Homo sapiens: one gene and its partners. The protein of the gene in region 1 purifies or fractionates together with the protein of each later gene. This does not show direct contact. Each region holds a gene or a part of one and is shown in the gene's direction. Other genes may lie near its edges.

Region 1 (3,522 bases):
AGCGTGAGGTGAGAGCAGGAGGCGAGACAGGCGGGAGGGGGCGGGGGCCAGGTGTGATCTGCAGAGGGGAGATGAGCAAGAACTTGAGGGATTTCCAGATGGGACTTTCTTGCCGATGCCCCGCCTCTACTTGATATTTAAGATGGAAATCCCAACTTAGAAGGAGTGTAAGAGGATAATAGTTACCCACAAACTGAAGTTCCCAGCTCTGTAGGAAGTAACCCTTGGAGAGCTCCAAAGACGAAGCTGCCCCAGCTCACATGGGGCAAGATGTAGGAGCTCAGGGCTTGGAATCCCAGAACCAGCTTCCCCCTACCTGTGTGAGCCTCTTTGAGCCTCAGTTTCCTCATCTGTAAAATACAGGGTTGGGCTGGGCACAGCGGCTCATGCCTGTAATCCCAGCACTTTGGGAGGCCGAGGCGGGCGGATCACTTGAGATCAGGAGTTCGAGACCAGCCTGGCCAACATGGTGAAACCCCCATCTCTACTAAAAATACAAAAATTAGCCGGGCATGGTGGTGCATGTCTGTAATCCCATCTACTCTGGAGGCTGAGACAGGAGAATCACTTGAACCCGGGAGGCAGAGGTTGCAGTGAGCCTAGATCTTGCCACTGTACTGCAGCCTGGGCGACAAAGTAAGACTCTGTCTCAAAAAATAAAAATAAATAAATAAATAATAAAATAAAATACAGGGCTGGGCCGAGCATAGTGGCTTACACCTATAATCCCAGCACTTTGGGAGGCTGAGGTGGGAGGACTGCTTTAGCCCAGGAGGTTGAGGCTGCAGTGAGCTGTGATCATGCCGCTGTACTCCAGCCTGGACAGCATAGTGAGACCCCATCTCAAAAAAGGAATACAGGGCCGGCTTCATGGGTGTGCCACCTGTGCAGTCGTCCAGGGCCCCACGTTTGGAAGGACCCCACACTTAGTTAAATGCTCTGATGCTATCATCTTAAAATTCTTAGTCGTTTTTGAACAAGGGCTAAATTTTTCATTTTGCACTGAGCCTGCAAATTATGCAGCTGTTCCTGGTGAAATGCCTCCCTCCTGGGTCTCTGTGAGAATTGAGTACGAGGCGATTCCTGGGAAGCACCCAGCACGGTGCTTTGCATAAAGTCAGTGGCTCAAGAAGTGGAGAAGCGCCCCAAAGTGAACCCCAGTACCCCGCAGGTTCCCTGCACTGCCTGTCCCTTCCCTCGGAGGAGGCACCACAGGGACTCCGGTCCCCGGACACCATCTGTTGATTGGCCCAGCCTGTGGGAGAGGGCTTGGCCTCCTCTGGAACCTTCCTGCTGCCCTGTGTGACTTGCTCGCCTCTCCGCAGCTGATCGCCTGGGAGCCGGAACAGGAAGAGGAGGTTACCATGGTGACCGCCCGGCCTAACTTTCAAGACAGCATCCACGTGGGCTTCGTGTCTGGCCTGAAGAAGTTCACCGAGTACTTCACCTCAGTGCTGTGTTTCACCACCCCCGGGGACGGGCCACGCAGCACCCCGCAGCTGGTGCGCACCCATGAGGATGGTAGGCACCCCCCAGCCCTGCTCTTTCTGCCCCCCCCCGCCCAAGGCCAGGCTGGGCGCCCCAGGCAGAAGGGTGGCCCAGGCTTGTCTCCCAGGCTGAGATACCCCCAGATTACCACAGGCTATCTCACAGATGGTGGTCTCTCTCTGGCTCTAACTGGCCTTGGGGGGTGGGGGTTCCTTTTGGGGTGCAGTGCCTGGGCCCGTGGGACACCTGAGCTTCAGTGAGATCCTGGACACATCGCTGAAGGTCAGCTGGCAAGAGCCGGGAGAGAAAAATGGCATCCTCACAGGTAGGCACTGCAGTGTTTCTGAACCAGAGGGCAGGACAGGGCTGGGAAAGGTCAGAGCTGGTCCATCCCCTGCCTTTGAGCTACTTTTCACCCAAACTCTTGAAGCCAACCCATGCTTTCTTAGAAACCACTCACAGGAGGCTCTTGGCACCTCCACTTCATAACACATCCCAGAGTCTGCAGCCCCACACCTTCTGCCACAGATCTCAGTGGCTGCCATGATGACTCACTATGTCCCCTGCAATTCCCTAAAGTGCTGGCATCCCACTGAGGCGACACCTGAGACCCAGGGCATGATGCCAACAGCTCCCACCTCCCTTGGCCCCATTGCTCCCAGCGTGGATCTAATTGCCAGCCTAGTGGAGAAGTGAGAAGTGGAGTAGTGGGTCAGGCCAACTTGTGATCACAGCCAAGCTCATGCCAACACGGCGGCTCTCCCCAGGGTACCGGATCTCCTGGGAGGAGTACAATCGAACCAACACCCGTGTGACCCACTACCTGCCCAACGTGACCCTGGAGTACCGTGTCACGGGCCTCACCGCGCTCACCACCTACACCATCGAGGTGGCCGCCATGACCTCAAAGGGCCAGGGCCAAGTGTCCGCCTCCACCATCTCCTCTGGGGTGCCCCCAGGTAAGTGCCCACTCTCAAGGCAGGACTCTTTGAGTTCTCCTGAGCAGCGTCCCATTCAAGAGGCCCCTTGTCGGCTGGGCGTGGTGGCTCATGCCTGTAGTCCCAGCACCTTGGGAGGCTGAGGCAGGCGTATCACTTGAGGTCAGGAGTTCGAGACCAGCCTGGCCAACGTGGTAAAACCCTACTAAAAATACAAAAATTAGCCAGCTGTGGTGGTGCATGCTTGTGATCCCAGTTAGTTGGGAGGCTGAGGATGGAAGATCGCTTGAACCCAGGAGGTAGAGGTTGCAGCGAGCCGAGATCACACCACTGCACTCCAGTCTGGGTGACAGGGCCACATCGCGTCTCAAAAAAAAAAATAAAAAGAGGCCCCTTGTCTTTCAGGAATACCAGCGTTCTTCCCACAGGCTCTCCCCTTCCCTTGTGCTGTGTGGGTCTGGGTCCCCTCAGAGCAGGCGGAATCCCTGGGATCCCAGGTCTCTGGACAGGGGCTCCCCTGGCTCCCTGCTGCATCCTCCCACAGCTCTCAGAAAAGCAGAGGCCCCCTGCCTTGTCTCATTTCCCCACCAGTCCCTCCCTTCACCCATTTCTCACCAGATTCCACACCAGGCAATGGTATCTGTGATTCAGGGGAAAATTTCCCACTGTCGCCCAGAGGGTCCACCTTGGATTCCAGCGTGTGGAAGGGTTGGTTGGGAGGTGGCAGAGCACGGTGGGGCTACTCCTAGGCCTGGCACAGAGAGCAAGCCGAGGTCCACTCTCAGCTCTGCTTCTGCCAAGCCCTACAACCTTGAGCAAGTTCTGTGTCCCCTCTGTGCCTCAGTTTCCCCATCTGTATATATGGGAAGTTGGACCAGATAACCATGTGGTCCCATCCAGATCAGTCAGGCAGTGCTTGTTTGACCTGCCAGCATCCCTCCACCTGCTGCGTAGATGGCTGGGCTGCCTGAGTCTCAGCCAAAGCCCAGTGATAATTACAGCCATGCTGGCAAATAGGTATGTAGTGTTCACGGGGCATGGTGCTGGGAGCTTTGCTCACGTTGACTCATTTAATCCTCACAACAACCCTGAGGGA
Region 2 (3,522 bases), on another chromosome or scaffold:
TGCTGCAGGCGGAGGTCTGGGTGGCCCTTCCCACTATTGCCACATCTGCTGTCCACCCAACATGCCCACACTCACTGCCATATCGTAAGGGAAAGGAGAGGAGGAAAGGAGGAAGGAAAGAGAGGCCTGTCCACACCATGGGCTATCAATAGCTCCTGGAGCCGAGAACCAAGGTCCCTGATGAGCGGGCTCTGACATAAGAGTGCCTCTGTTGAGGAGGGTGGACCAGCAAAACCTGGGCCCACCCACTCCTGCGTCCAGCCGGCTACCACACTGGAGGCCTGTGAGTCACTCCCCCGGCAAGCCCTGGTACGGGTGACGACGAGGGAGCTCAGCTGGCACTGGGGGGACTTGGCAGGAGGCCTCCTGCACAGCATCTAGTTCAGCAGTGCCAGCGAGGGGAGGCCCTGGCATGTCATTTACTGAGCAGCAGGTCTCCAGGGACATTGCAGCTGCCCTCCCTGGTGCATGTGTGTCCGGAACTGTGTAACCATCACCCAAGTCAACAGTTAGAATACGACACCCCCAGCCACATGGCACCTCCCTGAGCATAATTTCCTCCTCCACCTAAACATCACCACTCACCTGATAACAATGCTTTTCCTTTATCATTTATAGGCACATGTAAGCGTCTAGCTCTGTGTGCATCCCTAAACAGCATAGCGTTTTTAACTACATGGAATCATATTGTGTGTGTGCCTGTGGCTCTGGCTTCTTGGTTTAGCATTGTGAGATGCACTCATGGTGTTGCGTGTAGCTAGAGTTACTCGTTTTCACTGCTGTATAGTGTTCTGTTGCCTATAAAATACCCCTTCAGCCAATGGGCGGCAGGTAGGTCACTGTTTATTCCTCGCTTGCTGGTATTTTTAGTACCTGCATGAATCAAACACACCCCGTAATGGCATCTACAACTACCAGGCGTATATGAGGGGCAGAGACCAAGGGTGGTCACAAAGTCCTTTGCAAGTCTCACCCTTAAGCGCGTGGGGACTGTGTTGTTGCTGGCAGCCAGAATTAATGCTGATGTCCTGTATGTCTTGCAGCTTGCCGGGATTGCTGTCCTTGCCATTGGACTATGGCTCCGATTCGACTCTCAGACCAAGAGCATCTTCGAGCAAGAAACTAATAATAATAATTCCAGCTTCTACACAGGTGAGGGACGGGGAAGGCTCAGTGAATTCAGACCCTGGCTCCAACAAAGTTCCTGCAACTTTGGAGGCCCCATGTTGACCCAGGGACTTGGGCTTGGGAAAGACTTTTGCTCTAGCCACGCTGGCCAGTCGTGTCCCTTTCAAGTTGTGCAGTTTTTGTGTGTGTCGTTGTGCCTGGGAATTTGCGTTTAACTGATGTGGTTTCTTTTCCTGATGGCCAAGTCAGGCATGTTGATGGTTCTCTGATGTGATGTAGCCTCTGCCAAAGTTGTACTCATTCTTGAGGGTTTACGAACCTCTGTTCTCATCTCTGATGCTCTCTCCTGATTGTCTTCTTATCCTGCATCATTTCCTTAATTCAAAAAGCTTTGTCCTGGGGATCTGCAGTGCTGGAAGAAGATATAGACAGCTTTCCTCTTCACTGTTCAGATAGGGACTCTGAGACTGGGAAAAACATCAGCCTCCTGGAAAACACAGCAACAATAGGAGAGACTAGAATGGACTCTGCCCAGTCCTTTGGACCCCTGGTACTGGGGTAAATGCTGTAGTGTTTAGTTTTATTTGTTTGTATTTGACACGACTTTTGCTTTGGGAGAGAGGCTTCCAGTTTAAACCTGCCTGGGATCCTCTGAACATGAACAGACTTGGCAGGTTTCTTTCTACACTCAGGCTTCTTGGCAGCCTTGCTAGACCATTCTATCCCTCTCGTTGCCGTATCACCACGTCAAAGCTCCCTTCAGAGGAGGGGGAGCCTGGTGCCTGCCAAGTGCAGTTGCCCGCGTCTGCGTGAATTCAGACTCTGCGGCTGTACTCTGCCTGGCTTGGAGGTAGGAAACTTTTCATTTGTGAGGAACAAAGGAAACCTCCTATTTTTAGGATGACGCTGACATGTTGTCAGGCTCAAAATGTAAGTTTGGTCACTTCCTTCCCACCCACCAAAAAAGTTATTTTTACAAACGAGGGAGAAAACAGTTATCTCCCAGTCCCTCAGGGAGAAGCAAGGCTGGCCAGCCACGTAGACCTTCCCTTTCCCACCTCTTGAACTGGGTAGGGAGAGTCTTTAAAAACAGCTCCTTTGGTTGCGTAACATTTGAGCCCTGTGGATAGTTTTGCTGGGTTTACTGCTTTTTATTGTTAGCTGGGGTTTTTTGGGGTGTGTCTCTCTATTATCGGAAAGAAAGTGAGAGAAAGCACAATGTATGTTTAGAAAAAAAACTACACATACACACAGAGTTTTTGGGGAACAGGTTTCTATAGCGCCCTGACTTGTTTTGGCAACAGACCATTTTTTGGGAGTCTGTGACAGGCTTAGAATGCTGTCCTGCAGAGCAGGAGGGAGGAGCCGGGTGCGGGTGCTGGGGAAGACTCTCCACACTCCACGCCGTGTTCCAGAAGGGAGCCCTGTGCTGGGGGAGCAGGTCTGCCGGCAGGAGCAGGCACAGTCAGGCCTGCTTTCCTAAGCAAAAGCCCTGTGGCCGGCGCGTGTGTCTCCAAAGAGAGACTCAGTCCTCCCTTGTCCTGGCTGCTTCTAACAACCCACTTTTTCTTTTCTGTTACCCAAAGCCTCTATGGCTGATTCTTTATATTTTTAGATGTGGGAGTTAAGAATCTCATGGGTAAGAGGATGGAACTGGGAGGAAGACACTAACATTTTTATTTTTTATTTTTTTTATTTTTTTTTTGAGACGAAGTTTCAATCTTGTTGCCCAGGCTGGAGTGCAATGACACAATCTCGGCTCACCGCAACCTCTGCCTCCCAGGTTCAAGCGATTCTCCTGCCTCAGCCTCCTGAGTAGCTGGGATTACAGGCATGTGCCACCATGCCCAGCTGATTTTGTATTTTTAGTACAGACGGGGTTTCTCCATGTTGGTCAGGCTCGTCTCCAACTCCCGACCTCAGGTGATCCTCCCGTCTTGGCTTCCCGAAGTGATGGGATGACAGGCGTGAGCCACCTCGCCCGGCTGGAAGACACTAACATTTTTGAGCCCCCTTCTTTGTGTGTCATTCATTGTCTTGTGTGTATTATATAATTTAATCCCCTTAGCTCTACGAGGAGTGTGGAGTGATTCTCATCTCACAAGTGCAGAAACCGAGGCCTAGAGAGCTGAAATAACTTGTCTAAGCTTATATTCCCTCAAGAGGCAGGGCCAGGTTTTGAACCCAGGCCTAAAAGAGCTGCTTCTCGGGTTGTCATTGCCAGGTTGTGGGGTCTCCCTCTGTAGGAATGGAAGAGGTCTGTACTGGCTGAATGTGCCCCATTGGCAGGGATGGGGTGGCGCTGTCTTGGCCCTTTTACTTCACCCAAATTGCAGTCAGGGAGAGAAACCCCTGCGTCGGTGGCCCAGCCAGCAGCTGACAGGTGGGAAAGCT
Region 3 (2,460 bases), on another chromosome or scaffold:
CTGGGGGGTTTGGCCTTAGCTATTGACCCCACTCTCTTCGCTGGCAGCCGGGCCCCTCCCTCCAGGAGGGTGCGCTCTGAGCAGGCTCTCCTTGCATCGTGCATCTTGTGGCCAAGCTAGTGGCCAGGTGGAGACCTCCAAAGGCGCGGTTTCCAGAACCCGGGCTCAGTGGGGCTGTCCTTCCTGTCCTGTCGGTGGCCTCCGTTGTTGGAGGCCTCCAGGTCCCACATCTGCAGCAGCAGGCGCGGGGCATGCGCTGCAGGGCTGCCTGGGAGGGACAGCGCTGCTTCCAAACAGCCGTGAGCCCCGCGGGGATCCAGAGCCCGGAGCCCTGTGCGCTGTTCCGGCAGCTGAGGCTCGGCTGGGTCCTCCTCTCCCTGGCCCTGGGCGGGGCGCTCACGCTAGGGCTCTGACCTTGTTCCAGAAGGCGGGAGGCGGCAGGAGAGCGCTGGGTGCGCCTGCGAGGAGGCCGCCCCCGCGGGGGTGCTGCCTGAGCTGCCTACGGAGGCGCCCCCTGGGGACGCCCTTGCCGATCCCCCGTCGGGCACCACTGAGGAGGAGGAAGAGCAGCCTGGGAAGGCCCCGGACCCGCAGGACCCCCAGGACGCGGAGTCCGACTCTGCCACCGGATCGCAGAGGCAGTCCGTCATCCAGCAGCCTGCCCCGGACAGGGGCACGGCGAAACTGGGAACCAAGAGGCCGCACCCCGAGGATGGGGACGGGCAGAGCCTCGAGGGCGTCTCTAGCTCCGGCGACAGCGCAGGGCTGGAGGCCGGGCAGGGCCCTGGGGCTGACGAGCCGGGCTTGTCCCGCGGGAAGCCCTATGCCTGCGGCGAGTGCGGGGAGGCCTTCGCGTGGCTCTCGCACCTGATGGAGCACCACAGCAGCCATGGCGGCCGGAAGCGCTACGCCTGTCAGGGCTGCTGGAAGACCTTCCACTTCAGCCTGGCCCTAGCCGAGCACCAGAAGACCCACGAGAAGGAGAAAAGCTACGCGCTGGGGGGCGCCCGGGGCCCCCAACCGTCCACCCGCGAAGCCCAGGCGGGGGCTAGGGCGGGCGGTCCCCCAGAGAGCGTGGAGGGCGAGGCTCCCCCCGCACCCCCAGAGGCGCAGAGGTGAGCCGCTGTGCTGTCCCGTTCCGGAGGGGCCGCTTTGCCGGCCGTGAATCCCAGACGAGGCATTGGGCCTTTCCACGCCCCTGGGTGGCGGCTTCCTGTGGTGTTTGTGGACGTCCTCTGCCTGTGCCCTGAATCCGCTCCTGAGGCTAAGCGCTCCCAACGAGAAGGGTCCACGGGAAGCCCTCACCTCTGTAAACACACCCTGGGCCAGCGCTCGCATCCGAGGGGAGCCGCCGGATGTGGAAGAAGACTCGGCTTTCCTGCAGCCATTTAGTGCCGCCCCATGCTAGGTTATTTGACATTGTGCAGTGTAGAGTTGCCTTAAAGTGCGTGATCTGCCAGTGCTTTCTTCAAGTCACCCTTGCCCCGATTCCTCCTGTTTGCGCTCCCCAGGGTTGCTCAAGTGGAAATTTTGTCAGCTGTTTAGCCTTTTCGTACTTGGCGTGATGTCAACTTCACTTCTAATCTGCAAAAGCAGAAGCTGTTTCCTAGTTTACCTCGCGTGTGTTTACCTATATGGAGTAGCTCGCAGAGATCACAGAAATGCTTGCAGCCTAAGGCAGGGTTTTCAGACCGTGGGTCCCAGCCCATTTAGTAAAATGGGAAATCAATTAGCAAGTGGTCACCAGCATTACACAGCAATGAAGCAGAATAAAGTAGGCCAGAATGCATCATGTAGTAAAGGCAAATACTGTTTTGTGAAACTTTTCACCCATACATCTAAATGTGAGAACTGGTTGCAATGTAAGACATTTCTTGCTGGGAAGTTGTGAGCAAAATAAGTTGAAAACACTAATAAAGATCTGTCTGTCTGAGCAAAGGAGACTAAACTCCTTGGGCTACATAAGGTGATCTTTTCATTGATTGCATTTATTCTCAAGATTACAGTATCATTCCCATTGCCTGCGCATAAACTTAACTGCTCCCTGCGCATAAACTTAACTGCTCCCTGTAGATACAGAAACTGGTGCCTCTTTTTCTGTCACTGTGTTTGAGCAGGCAGTCTGTTGTAATGACCCCCAAATCACAGAGACTTAGTAAGTACTTATTCATGGGCCGGGCGTGGTGGCTCACACCTGTAATCCCAACACTTTGTGAGGCTGAGGCAGGCAGATCATGGAGTTTGAGACCAGCCTGGCCAACATGGTGAAACCCTGTCTCTACTAAAAATACAAAAAATTAGCCAGCTGTGGTGATGCGTGCCTGTAATCCCAGCTACTCAGGAGGCTGAGGCAGGAGAATTGCTTGAACCTGGGAGGCGGAGGTTGCAGTAAGCCAAGATTGTGCCACTGCACCCTAGCCTAGGTGACAGTGCAAGACTCCATCTCAGAAAAAAAAGAAA
Region 4 (2,373 bases), on another chromosome or scaffold:
CAACCTATTCATTCATTCATTTTCTCAGTTAACAAATATGTATTGAGTACCTCTGCGTGCCAGTTCCTTAGCAGCCCACCTAAGGTTGGGCTCTGCTCCTAAGTGGCAGAGCAAGATCTGGACCCAGGAAATGTGACACCAGAGGGCACGCTGGGGGCTCTGCTGTTGCCCTCCTGAGTCATCACTGGCGCCTGCAGCACTCACGGCAGCGTTCACTTACATGTAGAGCAGCGGGGCTGGGGGGGACGGTCATGGGCTGGACCAGGAAGTCTCACTCTCTTCCCTGGTGGTTGGAGAAGGAGACCCTGCGGGGCACAGGTGGTGATGGGAAGTGCCCGCGGCAGCCTGTGAGTTAGGGCCTGCCTGGGGAGGGGTTTGATGAGGTCTAGGGCGTGACCACAGGTTTCCCTATGCCTAAATTAATCAGTAGTCGGGAGTTCTGGAGAGCACCTCTCTTCCCAAGAAGGAAGTTTTGGCAGCACTCTCCGCTGGTGGAGCAGTGGTCTATGGAACGGAAGCATGGCCAGGGGCCCTGCCCTGGACCTCAGGTAAACCACAGCTGACCCTGTGCCAGCTGTAGTCTGAAGTTTTCCTCCCCAAGAGCCAGCGGCGCAGGAACAGCCCCACCCCGACCTCTGAGACGGTGTGAGCAAAGCGGTGCTCTGGGGCGGTCATAGCCCGGGAGCGTGGGCAGCACACCTTTCTCTGGGGTCCTGATCTGCTGCTAGTGGAGGGGTGGTTCTCCCAGGTAAAAGTCATGGAACCTGCATTCCTACAGTTTTTTCACGGGGCATTTCTTGGAGGAGGAGGTGGTTATGATGGAGACTCAAGCCAGACTGCCTGGGTCGGAATCTCAGCTCCATCCCTGCTGGACGGTGCAACTCTGTGCTTCGGTTTTCATCTGTAAAATGGGTAGGATAATAGTGCCTTTTTGAGTTAGAACCATTATAAATATTAGCTATTATACATTTCCATTTCAGACAGAAGTTGTCAACACCATGTGTGGCTACAAAACTATCGACAAGGAGGTAATGTCTTTGAAATGCCTTTCCCTGGAAATGTTGCTCTTCCTGGTCCACCCTGGGGTGATCGGAGGGGTTTATTGAGGTCGGGGTCCTGGCCACTGAGATTTTCCCACATTCCTGGCTGTGACCCAGAGCCAGGACTGCTGTGGTTTTCCACCCCAGCACAGAAGGGCTCAGGGAACCAAGAATTCCCCCAGGCTGGGAGATGCCGCCTGTCAGGGTTTGCCGAGCACCTACTGTGGGCTGTTCCACATGAAGCCACCACGGCGCTTCCTGGTACCCGCAGCGTGCTGTGTGCCCAGCCATGCTCAGCACCAGCTTGCCTCTGCCCCTGGGGCCACCTGGGACCCAGGAGTCCTAGAGGATGGTAACCCCCTCTGGGGGTTGCTCCTGGGTCAGCTTCCTGGGCAACACCCCTGGTCTAGGAGAGAAGCAGGGGTGGTGCTGAGAAGGGACCTAAAAGGAATAGTGACCTGACATGCAGAGCAGTGGCTTTCAAAGTGGGGTCCCCAGTCCAGCAGCAACAGCATCCCCTAGGAATGTGAGAAATGCACATTCTTGGTATGGGGCTAGTGGGTGATTCTGACACATGCTTGAGAGCCATAGACCAGCAGTGGTTCTCAGCCCCTCAGAACCAATGGCCATTTTTATAACAAACAGTGGTAATGTCCTATTTATTATCCCCAAGTGAAATTCACAGATAACCTACCTACATGCCCAATTCCAATACAATTAACATAATGATCTGAGATAAAGTAGAAATGAAATACAGCAATTTACAGCTGTTTAACATAGTTCATCATGTAAGTGCTTAGGCAGTGGGGGGTGCAGAAGACACAATGTAGTCAGGTGTCTGCACTGATGTGAGGCATCCCTGAGGCTGTAGTAGCTACAGGGCAGCTGATACTGGGCATTGTGTTGGCGACTCACATACCATGGGCATCATTTTTGCCACTGGCATGGTTTTTAAAAACGGTGAACAATTCTTGATAAAGTTCTGAATTAAATAATGTGTAATCATTCCTTAATTTACCTAGTAGTACTTCTGGAAAATTCTTTGTATATTAAAACCAATGCAGAAATGCTTTTTTTTTTTTTTTCCCTTAAGAGACAGACAGGGTCTCACTGTTGCCTAGGCTGGCCTCAAACTCCTAGGCTTAGGCACTCCTCCCAACTGAGCCTCCATAGTAGCTGGGACTGCAGGCACTGGCCACCATGCCCAACTCTGCTTTGTTTTTTATATGTACCTGGAGTGGGGCTATTGGCTTGGATAATTATAAATAGGCTTTTCATGTATGGAAAACATCCGTGAGGCTTTTCATGCAGGGACATCTGAGAAGCACACAGG

Evidence for each region.
Region 2: the proteins of SDK2 (region 1) and CD9 purify together in Homo sapiens (co-immunoprecipitation; one large-scale study listed by IntAct). This does not show direct contact.
Region 3: the proteins of SDK2 (region 1) and ZSCAN18 purify together in Homo sapiens (affinity purification with mass spectrometry; one large-scale study listed by BioGRID and IntAct). This does not show direct contact.
Region 4: the proteins of SDK2 (region 1) and TSPAN15 purify together in Homo sapiens (co-immunoprecipitation; one large-scale study listed by IntAct). This does not show direct contact.

Annotation. Positions count from the first base shown.
Region 1 is NC_000017.11:73,399,945-73,403,466, reverse strand, and holds part of SDK2 (protein sidekick-2 precursor), read left to right. Parts: intron 1-1,325; coding exon 1,326-1,521; intron 1,522-1,714; coding exon 1,715-1,813; intron 1,814-2,255; coding exon 2,256-2,447; intron 2,448-3,522.
Region 2 is NC_000012.12:6,224,383-6,227,904, forward strand, and holds part of CD9 (CD9 antigen), read left to right. Parts: intron 1-1,043; coding exon 1,044-1,152; intron 1,153-1,756; exon of another isoform or gene 1,757-1,978; intron 1,979-3,522. UniProt on the Homo sapiens protein: Integral membrane protein associated with integrins, which regulates different processes, such as sperm-egg fusion, platelet activation and aggregation, and cell adhesion.
Region 3 is NC_000019.10:58,083,344-58,085,803, reverse strand, and holds the end of ZSCAN18 (zinc finger and SCAN domain-containing protein 18), read left to right. Parts: intron 1-424; coding exon 425-1,119; 3' UTR 1,120-1,948; downstream 1,949-2,460. UniProt on the Homo sapiens protein: May be involved in transcriptional regulation.
Region 4 is NC_000010.11:69,503,458-69,505,830, forward strand, and holds part of TSPAN15 (tetraspanin-15), read left to right. Parts: intron 1-980; coding exon 981-1,028; intron 1,029-2,373. UniProt on the Homo sapiens protein: Part of TspanC8 subgroup, composed of 6 members that interact with the transmembrane metalloprotease ADAM10.